2 separate regions of the Homo sapiens genome follow, and region 2 is linked to region 1. A link means that fine-mapping ties the variant in region 1 to the expression of a gene that starts in the linked region. Tissue or cell type: whole blood. Region 1 holds a variant in brackets; the other region holds the start of a gene. All regions are shown on one strand. Distances are between the middles of the regions.

Region 1 (8,104 bases):
CATAAGAATTCTTAATAGCAACACAGGATAATAACTGAGCAGTGCTTTCATATTGCTAAGGAAAAACTTCCAACTCAGAATTCTATTTCTGGCCAAACTACCAATTGATTGTGAAAATGGAATAAATATATATTCATATATGCAAAGATTACACAATCTTCTTAAGAAGCTAATTGACAAGTGCTCCAGAAGAATGAGGGAGTAAAACATAAAAAAGCAACATGAAAAAGCCAAGAAAAAATGTCTACCATAGCAAGAAGTTAATCAACACGAACTACAATTGATAAATCAAATATCAGTGTAAGCACTATTTAGATATACGGAGGTAGAAGAGTTAACAGTTGTTGAATTTGGGGTGTATAAATGACAGTTAAAGAATTATACAATTGATTTCATTATAAGCTTTTTGGTGCATGTAATTTTTAAGCCATGTGCATGTATTACTTTGATTAAAATACTATTTATTAAAAAACTAAGAAATACATACCCTTAGTACATCTTATAGATACACTCAATAATTTGTGTTTTGGTAATATGTGAAAAGACCTATGTTCAAAGATATTCATTGCCCAAATGTTTGTAAGAGTGAAGGACTGTCAATTACTGAAACCTAAATATTCATCATTAGCAGAGCAGTTAAATAAATCATAGAACTATAGACATGAAAAGAAATAAGATATCTCCCTGTATGGTGATATGAAAAGAGCTCTGAACTATATTGTTCCATTAAAAAAAGCAAGGTGCAGGAGAGTGCAAAGCATGTTCCCATTTTTGTGTATTATAAAAGTTGTGTGTAGATATAGATGTGCTGTATAGTCATAGCAAACTTCTGGAAATTTACAAAAGTAACTGTTAACTATTGCCTCTAAGAAGTGGGATCAGGAAACTGGGAAGAGAGGAAGACTTAATATTCATTGTATGTGCTTTTATACTATTCATTGTTCACGTGTCACTGTACTCAATTTTTCAATGAAAAACTATCTTATATGAATTTATTAATCAGTTCATTAGCAAAAGAGTCTTGTCAGACAGTGCAGTGGGCCACTTTACAAATACTCCCTTCCTCTAGGGCTCCTGGTGTGATCCCACAGCCCTTGGAAAAACCAGAGTCGTTGGAAGGAAAAAGAAGCTTGGCTGTGGCGTACATAATTATTTCTCTGTTTGTTTCCAATATCTAGTGCCTGTTCCATACAATATGAATGTAAGCACACCAAAATTAATCCTGACTATAATTATACGAATTTTGACAACTTTGGCTGGTCTTTTCTTGCCATGTTCCGGCTGATGACCCAAGATTCCTGGGAGAAGCTTTATCAACAGGTTATCTATTTATAGTCTCTCTTTTTCCTCTCTCCCTCCCTCCATCCTTTTCCTTCCCCCTCTATCACTTACCTATTTATTTACCATTTATTTATAACTACCATTCATCCCCCACTTTTATCATCTGTCTCATCTTTAACAGTTGTACTGTTAAATTCTGCCTTACTAATTCTGTTAGAAACTTCAAGAAAATTGGCCAGGCACGCTGACTCCCGCCTGTAATCCTAGCACTTTGGAAGGCTGAGGCTTGAGGTCAGGAGTTTGAGACCAGCCTGGCCAACATGGTGAAACCCCAACTCTACTAAAAATACAAAAATTAGCAGGGCATGGTGACAGGTGCCTGTAATCCCCACTACTTGGAAAGATGAGGCAGGAGAATCACTTGAACCTAGGAGGCGGAGGTTGCAATGAGCCGAGATCACACCACTGCACTCCAGCCTGGGTGATAGAGTGAAACTCCGTCTCAAAAAAAAAAAAAAAAAGAAACTTCAAGAAAATTTTAAATGCAATATTTGGAAGAAGACTCCAAAGAACCCCTCCTCTTCCTAGAAATGTTAGCCCCCTCCAGATTCCCTACTGCCCTATCTCTCTTGCCACTTTTATTTTAAAAATGCAGATACTCTTGAGAGAGTTATAGATAGTAAAGTCACTGAAACTTCCATGTGAAGGTGTGGATAGTATCTCCCCACTGAGAGATAGGGCATCAGGAATCCCTGGAGTATTAGGGAAGCTATATGGTCTGTGGTCAACTGAGCCCACCAGTGCTGGGGGAAGACCAGTTGTCTGCTACTGTGTGGTTTTTGCTTGAGGTGATGGTCACTTTCCTGTGGAAGAAGGTTTGATATTCAAGAACATGCTCTGTCCTTTGCAGACCCTGCGTACTACTGGGCTCTACTCAGTCTTCTTCTTCATTGTGGTCATTTTCCTGGGCTCCTTCTACCTGATTAACTTAACCCTGGCTGTTGTTACCATGGCATATGAGGAGCAGAACAAGAATGTAGCTGCAGAGATAGAGGCCAAGGAAAAGATGTTTCAGGAAGCCCAGCAGCTGTTAAAGGAGGAAAAGGAGGTAGGGACATGGGGTCAGACAGTGGGATCTGCTCTGGGGAGGGGAAGGGGTCCCCAGAGGCAATGTGACCTGAGACTCAAGGCTGCCACCCTTGGCCTGGTCTCAGTGCTTTCTCTACTGGTGCTTTTCTGAGAATATAAGTCCCTCGAAGAATGGCTGTGCTGCTATCTTTCACAAAATTGTCCAGGCACCAGGCCCTTCAAAACGGGGAACGCTTGGTCTTGATGCTTTTTGACCTTCTGAAGTCTAAGCCTTCTAAGACATGCCCTAAATTACTGACTAGACGATACAACATAAGTATATGTAAATCCAGGCTGTGCTCCAGGCTTTCTTTTGGAAATCTGGAGATGTTTGTGTTCGGCGCCTTTGCTTGAGGTGGACTCTAGAATAATGTTCACCTCTCCCTGTCTGCAATCCTTGTCTTATTTATAGGCCATTCTAATAGTTTCCTTGGAATCTTTACATTCTTCCAGCTCAAGTCTCAGATTTTCAGGACAGGGACCATGTTTTATACTCGCACTGATCCTCTATAAGATTTGTCAGAAGGATGCCCATCGTAAGTGCTTAACATCTGCACTATCAGGCATAAGTATTTATTGAGTGCCTAGCGCATACTGGACACTGTGCTAAGGGGCAGTGACACAGAGATATGAAAGAGTCAATGCTGCTTTTGGTGGCTGCAATTTCTGTGCAAAAACAGGACATGTTTCCCCAGATAAATAACAGAGCTAGCGTAGTCCAGGTAGATGATGAGCAATTTAAATGATACAGAGCTACCAGAAGAGAGATTTTCACCACTCTCAGGTCGGGGTCATTTGCAATGTTTCATGAGGAGGTGTAATCTGTTCTTTAATTGCTTTTGTTCAATTTGAAGGCTCTGGTTGCCATGGGAATTGACAGAAGTTCACTTACTTCCCTTGAAACATCATATTTTACCCCAAAAAAGAGAAAGCTCTTTGGTAATAAGAAAAGGAAGTCCTTCTTTTTGAGAGAGTCTGGGAAAGACCAGCCTCCTGGGTCAGATTCTGATGAAGATTGCCAAAAAAAGGTAAGTCTTTTCCAGGGAATTAATGATACCATATTGCTGTCCAGGGGGACAGGTCCAATTGCCAATCAAATTGAAATAATTCATTTATTCAGTTACTCATTTATTCATTCATCCATTTGCACATACTTTCATGCATCCATGTGTCTTTTCAATTATCCATTTATTTGTAAACATCAATTTAGAGTGTTTACAGTGTTTACTATCTTCTTGGCACTGGGATAGGTGCTAGGGATACATGTTTTATACTCCACAGAGTGTACGGCTAATGATGAAGATATACTGATAAGAAGGCAGTTATGAGTCAGTGTGATGACTGATGTGCTGATTGCTGTGGGAGAACAGAGGAGGAACTATGTGTCAGTGTGGGCTCCCTCTGAAGCAAACCCAAAGACATTACAATGCAAGTAGATTATTTGGGAAGTGATCCCAGGAAGCACTGGGAAAGGAGGGAAGAAGTGCTATATGGAATGGAAGGTAACCAATGAAGATGCATTATCAAGCCAGTTACCACTGAAGCCAGGTAGTTGGAGTTTAATCCTTCCAAAGTAAGGGCATCAAAGTGTGTGTGTGTGTGTGTGTGTGTGTGTGTGTATATATA[G/T]ATATATACACACACACACACACACACACACACACACACATATATGTTGGTATATATATACCAACTTTGGACCATCATAGATTAAAGATTGCTGAAGACAGAAGACAATAATTTCCCTCTAATTTCCTACTTGCTGTGCACTAAGGAAGACAGGATTTGAATCATTAGAGAAAGTCCTCAAGTAAGGACATATGGGTGGGAAAACCAACAGCATCCAGAATTCATGGGGCCTGGGGGAAAAGCAATGGAAAAGGGTCCCCAGAAGATGCAGTGTGTCAGCTGAAAGGATGAATTCACCAGTAAAAGGAAAAAGAGAGCATTACCTGCAGAGAGAATAGAATGTGCAAAAGCCTAGAAGCGAAGGCAAGCAGGAGAACATGACCCATTAGAAAACTTGCCAGTGTGTGTGTATGCGCGTGCACGCACGCTCATGCATGCACATGTGTGATGAGGCTGGGGGAGGGTGGGTGGCACAAGGCTATAGTGATCAGTTGGGGGATCACAAAAGACCTCGAAAACAAAGCTAGAGAGTTTACCCTTTTCAATGAGGGCTAAGGGTAAAGAGCATTGAAAGGTTTATATAAGAGAGGGATATGACTGGATTTATGAAATTCTGGATGCATTGAAGACAGGGGATTGGAGGAGGGCAAAACTGGAGGCGACCAGTTAAGAGGCTGTTGCAGTAACCAAGTAAGAGGTGCCTGTGGCTTAAACCAGGGTTAGGGAAGTGAGGATGAAGAGCAATTAACAGACGACCGTGATCTGGAGAAGATAAAATTTAGCAGTTGACTTGATGGACAGTGTGGGGATAAGACCTGGTTTCCGACATGATTAGCTAACTTGATGGAGGGTAATTTATGGAGACAGGAAAGGTACACATTTTGGGAGTGGAAAGATGGCTCATTCAGTTTTGAATGTGCCAATTTCCAGATGCTTATGGGACCTCCAAGCAGGGATGTTGATTAGGCAGCGTGATGTGCAGAAATGAAGCTGGTGGTGGGGGAGGGATGGGCAGCAGAAAAAGTTATTCTTATCATTAAGGAGGGGGATGTTCAGACATATTTTAATTGTCCAGAGAAAAGTCAGAAGAGAGGAAGATGCTAAAGATACAGGTAAAGATGGCAAGAGCCACTTTCCTGAGATAGAGGGAGATGTAGTAGGTAGAAGGTGGATATGTATGCCTGATAATGTGGTGGGGAAAGGGAATTGAGAGGCCTTTGCAGAAGTAGGTAGAAGGATCCCATCCACTGCTATGATCAGTTCTCTGCTGTAGTAATAGGGAGAGATCTCATAGAAAGACTATCTAGATTGGCTTATCACAAAAAAGATAGTTCCCTCTGGGGCTCTGGTGAGTCGGAACCCTTGGAAAATAAGCCACTAGGAAAACCCAAATTTTCTGGATAGCTGGAGGTTTGCACTGTTTAATTCCAGTAACTTTAGAATTGTAGGTAGATGTGAGAGAGTGAGCTAGCCCTTGGGCCCAGCTTGAGAGTGTGTTTGAGGTTTAGGATCTAGATTTTGTGATATTTAGTGGGACTGTTCTTTTTAGTTACCAACCGTTTTAAAAACCGTATAGGCGGTTGTTCACTTCACAACTGCAGCTAGCACTTCACAATCTGGCTCCAGTCCACCTTTCTAAATTTATACTCCACTTCTTACCTTTAAACATTGTTTACAAATTGGATTTTGTATTGCTTTCATACCCGGAACCATTGCTTACTAGTTTTTGTAAAATTTTGTTTGCTCTTTGTTGGCAGTGAATGAAACACAGAGAAAGTAAAATGTCTGTAGGTAGGACTCTAGAAATGTGCATGCATAGGAAATATGAATGATCAAACCAGATTTCTCTTATTTGTTAAACATGAAATAAGAAAACTGAATATTTGGCATGCTGTAAAGACGAGGTGAGTAGACCTATAGAAAATGTTGAGCACTTTCATTACATGTAGCATTGGAACAAAGTAGTTTGTTAAGTTTTGAGGAGAGGCAGCCCCTGTCTTTAGAAGGTGCCCTATGCCTTCTCTTACAGCCACAGCTCCTAGAGCAAACCAAACGACTGTCCCAGAATCTATCACTGGACCACTTTGATGAGCATGGAGATCCTCTCCAAAGGCAGAGAGCACTGAGTGCTGTCAGCATCCTCACCATCACCATGAAGGGTAAGTTCCACATCCCAATCCAAGGGAAAGTCTACTTCAGTGATGTCCTTCCATTCTTCTTCTTCCCAATCCCCTAGAAGCCCTCTGCAAAGGAGGCTGTTTTGGAACCAACCCACTGTACCATCCTGCAAAGAGTGACTTCCTTTGCCTCTTTGGAGCATGTAAACAAAGTGGCTCACAAGAAGCAGACCTTCCCTGTGGGCCCACTCTAAACTGGCACCTGGGTAGAGGTGGAAGCTGGCTAGACTTGGGATGGGACTTCAGACAAAATGCATAAACAGGGCCTCAAACCAGGCCTGGGAGTCACAAGAGATCCAAGTGACAACAATAGTCAGTCAAAGAACAGAAGACTTTGAAGTCTCCAGGAGGTGGCAGTTGTTATTGAAGTTAGAGTCAGAAACCCCACATGGGCAATAGAAGACCTATGTAGAAAGGCTGGAGCCATCTGATGGACCAGATTAATAGCAGGTAACAGGACCCCACCCCAGGGGTTGGTGTTCAGGAGCAGGATTTACTCCCTGCAAGGGGGGTCAAATAGGTCCTCTAGCACTTTTAAGCCTACTGCATCATCTCGTTTGCCCTGCATGTGTCCCTGCAGCGGTGCCAGGGAAATCAGGGATGGTCTGAACTCAACTAGAGGATAGAGTCCCTTTTACTGTTTCAGTGCTTATAGATGCCCCTTCCCTTGAGCCCTGGTTGCCCCTTTTGCCTCTGTTACAGCTGACCTTATGGTCTGTCTTGAGTGGACATAACTTGTGCCTGTATCTATCTCTCTCTTGGATTCACAGCCAGCCAATGTTGATTTCCACATCTATATATCTAACATCAAAGCTCAGCTCCTGGATGCTCAGTAAGAGTGTAAATATTTGATGGACTTGACTGTACCGCATGCTAGTTGTATGTGGAACATTGTCTCTTCTGCACTAAGATTGGTGGAAAAACCTTTCTGACTACACAAATCAAAACATTTCACAACTGATCATGTATCAGGAGGCCCTGGGGAAGAGGGAGGAAGGAATGCACTCAGGCAAAGGGCATCTGGATTGCTTCAGAGCTAACTCCTCAACCTCTCGCTCATTCTCCTCCAGAACAAGAAAAATCACAAGAGCCTTGTCTCCCTTGTGGAGAAAACCTGGCATCCAAGTACCTCGTGTGGAACTGTTGCCCCCAGTGGCTGTGCGTTAAGAAGGTCCTGAGAACTGTGATGACTGACCCGTTTACTGAGCTGGCCATCACCATCTGCATCATCATCAACACTGTCTTCTTGGCCATGGAGCATCACAAGATGGAGGCCAGTTTTGAGAAGATGTTGAATATAGGGAATTTGGTAACATTACACTTTTTAAAAATAAAAAACATATTTCATACTTTAAAGTATAACTTTTTCAAAGTCTAAACATTTTGTGAATGAGCTAACCTAACCTAGGTTTTTGGTCCCCTTCAGTGGAGTGAGGGAAAAGATGGCTGTTACGGTTTTACTTTTACCCGGTTCATTTCAGAAACTGTCCATGTGTCCTGAGTTGGCCCTCTGGTATGTTCAGGTATCTCTTTAGCCATTCAGTGGTAAGCCAGATACAAGCAGACATCCTAAAAGTTCAGCTCTCTGAGATAATCAAGAAAATGTTAACCATATCCAGAGAACCGTGGTAATGGCTGTTGTGGTCCCAGTGATATTCATGACATCATTTGTCACAAAATAATGTGACTACTATTACTAGGTGTTATTCTCCCTGGAAAGATGAATCAGGGCCTGTCAGCTGTGGAAGTTTCACTTTTTTGGAAGGGGTTGTTTGGGGGTTGGTCAGGCTGGGGTGGGGTGAATTTCCAGACTTGAGCCTGCTTCAATATGTTTCTCATTGGATAGATCTAGTCTCAGTTAAATTGGGAAAACTAAGGGGAGCAGACTTTTC
Region 2 (8,092 bases), 200 kb before region 1:
GCCCCAGCACATCTTTGGTGTCCTGAATTCCTTGTTCCAGGTACTCAATGGCTTTCTTCGCAGTGTGGGGCTTGTCTGAGGTCAGGTCCACCCAGCCTCTGAGCACATAGGCCTGGGATGAGAACAAGATGAAAGATGAAGTCCTTGGTCCTGCACAGAATCAACTCAGCCTGCACATGATCCACACTTTGCCACCCAAAACCCTGAGGCCCTGCCAGGCACAGTCCCGTGCAGATCCCAGGGCAGCCAGCTCTCTCTCATGGCCAGGACTCCCATTGTTGCTTTGTCTGGAAATGCCCTGGACAGCGCCCCTCCCACTCCCAACCAAACCCCTTCACCTAATGTCCATTACCACTACTTACAACTCAGCCTCAGAGGCCCCTGCTTAGGAGGCCTCCCTCCCTGTACCCCTACAGCTCTCCATGACCCTTACTGAGGCACACTCACCTATCCTGTCATTGCCTGTTTACACTGGGGTCAGGAGCCAACATGGGGGCCTACGCAAGGCCACTCTTGATGTCTCCACTCCTTAGGCCAGCACGAGGCCTGGCCCTGCATAGGAAGCCAAGGAATGCCCTCTGAGTGGGTGAGCAGGAGCCGTTCTGAGCTCGTGGACCTCGCTGGTTCCATGTTAGCCTTCACCCAGCCTCTCCAGGCAGATGGGGAGGGCCAGGCCTGGGAAGCAGACTTGGAAGAGCCCTGCCCTAAAGCACCCCTCTTGATGGCCTAGATCAGTATTTCTCTATTATAGTTCTATTTCTCTTTTTCTATTATCTATCCTAAGGAGTCTCTTTAGATACTGTTTTCTAATCAATCCCTCCCCTTCCAAGAAATGTTAGTGCCTCAGATATACCGTATCTGTGTATTGTGTACTGTATATATATCTGTGTTTTATACATAAAGAGTAAGATTTTTTTCACCCTCTCCCCCAGGGACCATGTCTACACCCTTGAAAATTGGTATCAGCCCTGCTGAGAAGGCATGGCCTAGACTGAGGCTTCAAATTCCATATTAGTGCAGATATACAGTATATGGGCTGCACTGCATGAGCCACCATTCAGTTCCAGCAGAGCATTACAGGGAGGGAATGGCCCAGTGTGGCCAGCTCATCTGGGTCTTCAAAAGAACCAGTAAGTCTGGACCAGCCTGGGCAACATGGCAAGACCCAGTCTCTACAAAAAATGTAAAAACTAGCTGGGCATGCTGGCACACACCTATGGTCCCAGCTACTTGGGGGGCTGAGGTGGAAGGATTGCTTGTGCCTAGGAGGTTGAGGCTGCAGTGAGGTCTCAAAAAAAAATTTCTTAAGAATATGGTGCAAGCCATAGAAAATCTATCTAAAGATCAGACTCTGTGTACAAATGCCAATGTGTAACCTCTGCTAAGCCCAGAGACAACACGCGTGGGGCAACTGTGAGACCCGGTGTTTTGCCAGTGCCTGGGTGTGGCTCTCCCCCAGTTTCAGGGCCCTTTGTGGGAATGAGGGCCACCCTGCTATTATGTGTTTGGATGCTGCTTTCTTCGCCTGTTGTCCCCATGGTGTGGTAAGTACCTCTCTGAAGCCTCTAGAAATCTTCAGCATGCGGTCAATGTACTCTTTGGCCTTGTCATGGCGGCCTATGAGCCAGAGGAAAAGGCCAGCATAGTACAGTGCAGTCCCACTGACTGTCTTGCGTATTTCCTTCAGGCTGTACTCAAGCTCCTGAATTGCTTCTCGGTCTGTAAATCCAAGAGCGAAGGAAGAGGGAGAGTTAGGATGTGGAAGTCTGCCTGGTTCTGCATGGGCCACCGAGGGCCCAGGGAACTACCTCGGGGTCTCCCCCAGACACTGTGGATCTCCTTCAACATATGCAGCACACCGCATGCAGCCCAAGGCCTGGAAACCAGCAGTACCTGCCCTTGAGATGCTGCAGGGGCTGCCCTGGTGTGGACTCACGTGTGCTGTCTGAGATTACCTTCTCTTCTCTGTGCCCAGCAGTGTGCTGAGCAGGCAGGCCAAACCAAAATCCTTAGCCTCAGGCCCACAACTTATTGTGAGTAGGGAAATAGTAGTCTGTAGTCTCTCTTGGACCCTCTCCCTGACTCTAGAAATGTGGAGATTAGGGGTAGAATTATATATATTGGCTTGGTTTTTCTGACAAGATCTTGGCAAAGAAGAAGGGTGTTTCCCCAACTCTTGGGATCTGGAGCATGGGCCCCTCCCACTGTCATGGGCTCTGCCTGCTTCCACTCAGTTGGGCCCAGGCATGGAGTCTTCTCCCAGGCCTCCAGGGGGAGAGGAGCAGCAGCCACTTCTCACTGGTTAACAGCATCTGCACAGCCACCAGGGCACATACCTCCTTTGGCAGCCCTTGAGGGGCTGTGTTATCTCTGGGGCAGGGCTTTCCTTCCCCTGGTGGGTCAGGCCTGGTTGAGCATGGTGGCACTCACCAATGATTTCACATCTTTTGTGAGCATAAATGAGGGCCATGGTGGAGCACAGGGACACGTCTGGGTGATGCCTGATGCTTTCCAGGTCACTGATGGCATCCTGGATGTGCTCTGCAAAGACAGTCCACATAGTTATACTCTCAAGCTCCAGGACTAGAGGACATGAGACTCTGTAGCTGACCCAACAGCTCAGCACTACTACCTGCTGGACTAACTGGTCTGAAAGGTCCCCAGTGACCCAAGTTCCCTGAAGATTGGGGCTCTTTGAAAGAGTTGCTGGTAACATGGTCCAGGCTGTTAGGGGCTGGAAATCTTGGACTTGAAAGGTTCACCCTGTGAGTACTTGTGGGGATATGTGTGAGGCTGCAATTATTAGCTGCGTCAGTTCTGAAGAAGGACCTCAGGCAGGGCATTCTCAGCTACTGCTCAAGAGCCACTGATTACATTTATCCCTCCATGTCCTCAGACATTTGGCCATGGGCTATTCTGCCAGTCCTCAGCCTAGGACCACCTTCTGAATGTCAGCCCATCTGCACCTGCATGGGTCTCACTCCTCTCCCTGTACCTGTACCATACCCACCTGTCCTCACACCTACCTCTTCCCCCTCCTTTGCCTGCATTACCAGTTCTCAGCTTCCAGGCCTGGAATTACTTCAAGAATCATGCAGCTATCTCTCCAACCACTCATTTTACAGAGAGGGAACCCGAGGTGCAGAGCAGGGATAGTCAGCGCTCTGAGGTCTCAAAAGTCAACTAGATATGGATTACGTAGGCCTCTGTGGATTCCCGTGGGAATCCAGCCGCTGAGTGTGAAACTGTTTTTATGGGACCATAACTAGGATACAAGAAGGCATCCAGGTGGAGCCAGAGTGTTAGGGCCCAGCTAGTGCCTGGGGTCACAAGACCAACACTGCCAAGTCCTTACCTTCTTTGAGGACTCCATAGGCTTTAAAGAACTTCAACACAGGGTCATTGCTGAATTTTTCCAGGCCCACAGCTGCAGCCTGCTGCACATGGTGGAAGTACTTTTCCTGGCTATAGTAAATGATCCCAGCCTGTATGAAGGAAGACATAACTGCAATAGCCCAGTCCCTTCTCTGTCTCTGTTCTGTCCCAGATGGGATGAGACCTGCTCCCTTCCCTATCCCCTGCTCCTCCTCAGTTCTGCAAAGGGAAGAGAAAGAGGAAACATTCAGGCCTCATCCTGTCCTCTAACAGCCCTGGGAGCAGCTCCATGCAGTTTTCCCAGGAAAGAGTTTGGAGGTGTTTGTTTGGGGGATTACCAACAGATTCTGGTTCAACTATGATGGGGAATTCAACCAAGGCTTTGTCTTAGGAAGGGAATAAGGGGGGAAAAATGAGGACAAATAATAAGAAAAATTATACGAATTGTAGTTACAAGTTATTGTGGGCTTCATATCCACTATCCTGTGCATGGTCCTCTCAGTATCTTTCACAGCTAAGGAAGCTTAAGCCCATGGAAACTACAGCTTGACAAAGGGGCTGAGATTTTAAAGTTAAGTTTCACTTCCTCTAAGGTTTGTGGGTGCTAGGTTGGGAGCAGATGTGGTTGGACTGTAAACATCCTCATGGGCCATATGAAAGAGCCCAGACACCATCCTAAGGGTAACAGAAAGCAGAATGGTTTTAAGGCGAGGGATGTTTTCAGATGTACATTTTTGCAACAACCACTCTGGCTGCTTTTGCATGTGGGGGGTGTGTGCCGTGGTGGCAGCAGGGACTACTGATGCTGAAAAGAGCCACAGCAGAGAAACCAGATGGGAGGGAGGCTGTTGCAGGCTCTCAGGGGGGAGAGATGGTGCTGGTTCTGGGCTAGAAGATAAAAAGATAAAAAGAAAACCCAGGAGACATCAAGGAGCTGGCATTTCTTGTAGACAGGATTAGAAGATGAGTATAGGGAAGAGGTATGAGTTAAGGCTAGGAGATTAAATGGTGAAGCCATCAACTGGGGTGGGAGGCGCAGGCGAGAGTGAGCTGGGTGGAAGAAGGGATGATGACAAGAAGGGATAATGATAGTGATTGGATGAGCTGGTTTGGGGTAGCTCAAGAAACGGGGATGCTAATTTGGGGCTCAGGGTGCGCAGAAGCCACCGGAGAAGACGCCCTTGCCAGGGGGAGTGGGGCAAGAAAAGGCAGGACCGCCTGATATAACTGAGGACAGCGAAGGGTGGCAGGAGAGTAGCAGGGCAGACGGTCTCTGGGTCAGGGGCGGGGAGTCACGAGGGAGCCCTCGGACAGCGCCCGGGCCACGCACCATAAGGGAGGAGTCATTGCTGCTCATCTCGGGCCGCTCGCGGCTCCGAGTCCGGGTCTGGTGGGGCGGTGCAGAGCGGGATTCCCGAGGCAGGGTCGTGGGCACTCTATCGCGGCGGGCGGTTGAAGGCGTTACAGTCCTTGGAAACCGAGCTGCTAGCCGGTTGCTAGGAGCGTCCAGTGTCTGGAGTGGGAGGAACAAAACGCCTCACGTCACAAGGCGCAGGAATCGAGCGCCGAGAGAGCGAGTCGGTGCTACTGGCGTCGGGTCGGTCCGGGTAGGCGCAGCGGGACTGGACCTGGGTGCCGAGCGGAGCCGCTGCCATGGGCCTGGGCGTCAGCGCTGAGCAGCCCGCAGGCGGCGCCGAGGGCTTCCACCTCCACGGGGTGAGTTGCCGCCGCGGCGCCGGTGACCTTGGCGAGGCGCCCGCAACCCCGCGCCCGGGCGTCCGGTCGCCGGCTGGCTGGCGACTGCGGCGGGGTCCCGGCCCGAGTGTTTCCGCCTGGGTGGCGGGAGGTGCCCCCTGCCCGGTGGGAGCCTCCTGGGAGAGGCGGCCTCGCGGGACTCCCGGACCCTGGCTAGTCCGCGGCCGCGGTCGGGCCCAGCGCCCGCCCCAAGTGCCAGCAGTGCCGGAAGCGGAGCGTTTTCCTGGTCCGGCCGCCGGGAATGGCGCTCCTCCCGGGTGAAGAATGCACCACTACCAGTCGGGACGCACTCGTGCACTTAGCACACATTTACGCTCGCCTGCCGCGGGCCGCTCTCCGTGCTGGGCCTGGGAAGAGAGTCAGCCACGCCGAGGACAGTCCCGGGGGCCGGGGTTAACCGAGTGGACGCAGCTGCGGGGGAGCCCGTCGGCGCGCGTCCTGCCAGTCGTAGGGTCGTAAGGGCTTCCGAGGGTAGAGGACCGGTGCAAACCAGCCACGGGATAGTGGGGAGCGGGAGGGCCGGGAGAGTGCTGCAGAATCCTCGAGGAGAGCGTTTGCAGCTGGGGAGGGTCCCAGCCTTTAGATGCCGCTACATGGAGGTCTGGGCGAGCAGGCTTCCGGAGAGTGGAGACGGAGTGGGGTTCCTAGAACGGAGTGTGCTGTGAGGGTGAGGAGAGGGTCCCGCAGCCGGATGGAGATTTGTGCCTGCGGTGAGGGAAGGGCTATAATGTAGGTGAGAGGGGCTGGGGGTCTCTGACCCCGGAGCGCTGCGGGGAAGAGGCGTCCCTGCACCCCCCCTTTCCCTAGTGAAAGGCAGCTGGATGCAGAGATGAGTGGAGACAGGCAAGCTTGTCGGTTTGTGTGTTTTGAAGGTAGGGTCTGTTGCCAGCTAACCACATGAGAGGGCTAAAAGTTTCTTAACGTGAAAACCAGGCTGGCTTGGAGAACCCAGAGTTGACAGGATTTGTGCTTGGGAATGGGCTTTCTTATGGTGAGACACCAAACAGCAAGCGTGGACAGTGGAATGCATCCAGCCAGGAGCGTCTTCCAACAGGTTTGATTAAAGGCAAAGGAACTCAGGATATTGGCAAGAGGAGGGGTGGGGCGATGATGGGAGCTTCGAAGACGGGAGGGGCCTGCCTGATGGAGAGGGACAAATTGGAGAGGGACCAGGGATCAGAGGTTGTCAGTCACAAAAACAAAGTTTTGAGCTCCTACTCTGGCAGGCAGAATTCTAAGGCTCTAGAGATAAAGCAGTGAACAGAACAAACATGGTCCCTGTTCTGGAGCTGACATTTGGATGATGGTAGGGAAAGAAGGGAAATGAAAAAATACATGGTAGGTGGTAATTACCAGTGATAAAAATAAAGCAGGTTAAGGGGATACAGAATGGTGAGTGGGTGCTATTTTTGATAGAGTGGTCAGGAAGGGCCTCTTCTCAAGTCACATTCGAACAGATGCTTCTGAAGGAAGTAAAGAGTGGACAATACAGATATTTAGGGGAATAGTAGTATTCCAGGCAGAAGGACCAGCTTGTGCAGAGGCCCCGAGGTAGGTTGTGCTTGTGTGTTTGAGGAAATGCCAGGTGAGGCTGGTGTGCTTGGATGGTGTGGCCAGTGTGAGGAGGAGACCAGAGCAGACCGTGTAGGACCTTGCCTGTTGTCCTGAAGATTTAAGATTTTATTCTGAGATGTAAAACCATCAGGAGGTTTTAAATGGAGGAGTGACATGACCTACTTACCTTTAACAACACTGAAGAACAGCTGTGCTGCATTCTAGAAATATTGGCACCTCGCTGCGTGCCCAATACTTTGGAGAAGTCGCTGCCCTCAGCGAGCTTAGAGTAGTGGCAGATTCACCAGGAAACAGCTGTTAGGAGAGGGCAGTGGTTAGGGGGAGGGCTCTGGGTTGGATTTCCTGGGGTCAAATTACTGAATTATTGAGTACTTGGTCTCATTTGTCATTTGAGGTTATTAAAAAGGTTAAATGACACATAAAGCAGGTGAGGTGGTGCCATGCCCTGGCACTCAGCCAACCAGCCCTTAGTAAGTGTAAGTTGTGATCACTGTGAGTTCCATTAGGTTCCCTGATTGGGAAAAATAGGGTGGGAGCATGAGGAAAAGCAGCACTATAGGGCCTTGGGGCAGGCTGTGATGGGAGCCCCTGAGGGAGCTGGATGGCAGGCAGTGGTTTCTGCAGGGGGAGCCGTACAGTGGGCAGCAGCATAGATTATTTCAGCTGCGGAGCCATAGTGAGTAGTGATGAGGCCCCAGGTGAGAGAAGTGGAGTGTAGCCAAGCAGAGGACAAAGCCACAGGAGAGGGTGGTGGAGGTATTGGGTGGGTCAAGGAGGCCAGGCCTGGGGCCTGACCCTCTGGACCTCATTCATGATGGAGAGCAGCTGACATGCAATACTGGGGAGTGGGGAGGGAAGTAGGCAGGCACCTGACGTGGAGTGATTTGGAGGTGGCCCTGATTAGGGAGGGGCATTGTCCCCAAGCTATTCCTGAATAACTGTCCTGTCCTGTGGTTTTCGAAAGATCCCCTCACCTGAAGGGTTAGAGGGCAGGGCCCAGAGCTCCCCTGCAGCGGGGCCTGGGAGCAGCTTGCCTACTGGGCCAGGCCAACTAGGCCCAGATCTGATTTCTGGGCCGCACTCACTCCCTTTGGAAGCCATGGCAGCTTCTGGAGGTGATAAGGAGGGGCTCAGTTGGTGATGCTGCCAGAAGGGAATCCTAATTCCAGGGGCAAACTGGCCTTGATCTCAGCGGTTTGTTCTCAGCCTAGTCTTCATGAGCTCTCCTTCAGGTTGGGGAATCCAAACCTGGAGGGGCTGGTATGTAGCAGGAGCCACAGGGCCTTTCCCATGAGGAGGCAGCAAGAGCCTAGGTCCTGTGCCCTCTGGGCTGGGTCTGGCTGGTGTCTACGCCAACAGGTTATCAAATGCCCGCAGCCAAAGACCT

What was found. PIP is the estimated chance that this variant, and not a neighbour inherited with it, causes the effect.
Region 2: TTC21A starts here. The variant in region 1 is fine-mapped to the expression of TTC21A in whole blood (INTERVAL, PIP 0.93).

What each region holds. Positions count from the first base shown.
Region 1 is chr3:38,903,282-38,911,385 of GRCh38, reverse strand. It overlaps SCN11A (sodium voltage-gated channel alpha subunit 11), which reads left to right. Exons shown (of 30, transcript NM_001349253.2): 12 at 1,179-1,320; 13 at 2,192-2,389; 14 at 3,264-3,437; 15 at 6,065-6,194; 16 at 7,283-7,521. Among named protein-coding and RNA genes, the nearest start is that of SCN10A, 91 kb to the right of the region's middle. The variant G/T (reference allele first, on the strand shown) is at 4,036.
Region 2 is chr3:39,104,478-39,112,569 of GRCh38, reverse strand. It overlaps TTC21A (tetratricopeptide repeat domain 21A), which reads right to left and starts at 4,890. Exons shown (of 29, transcript NM_001366900.1): 1 at 4,706-4,890; 2 at 3,356-3,485; 3 at 2,431-2,541; 4 at 1,553-1,719; 5 at 1-112. The coding sequence starts at 4,732. GORASP1 (golgi reassembly stacking protein 1) reads left to right here and starts at 4,943. Exons shown (of 9, transcript NM_031899.4): 1 at 4,943-5,091. The coding sequence starts at 5,029. RefSeq lists a silencer at 4,994-5,313.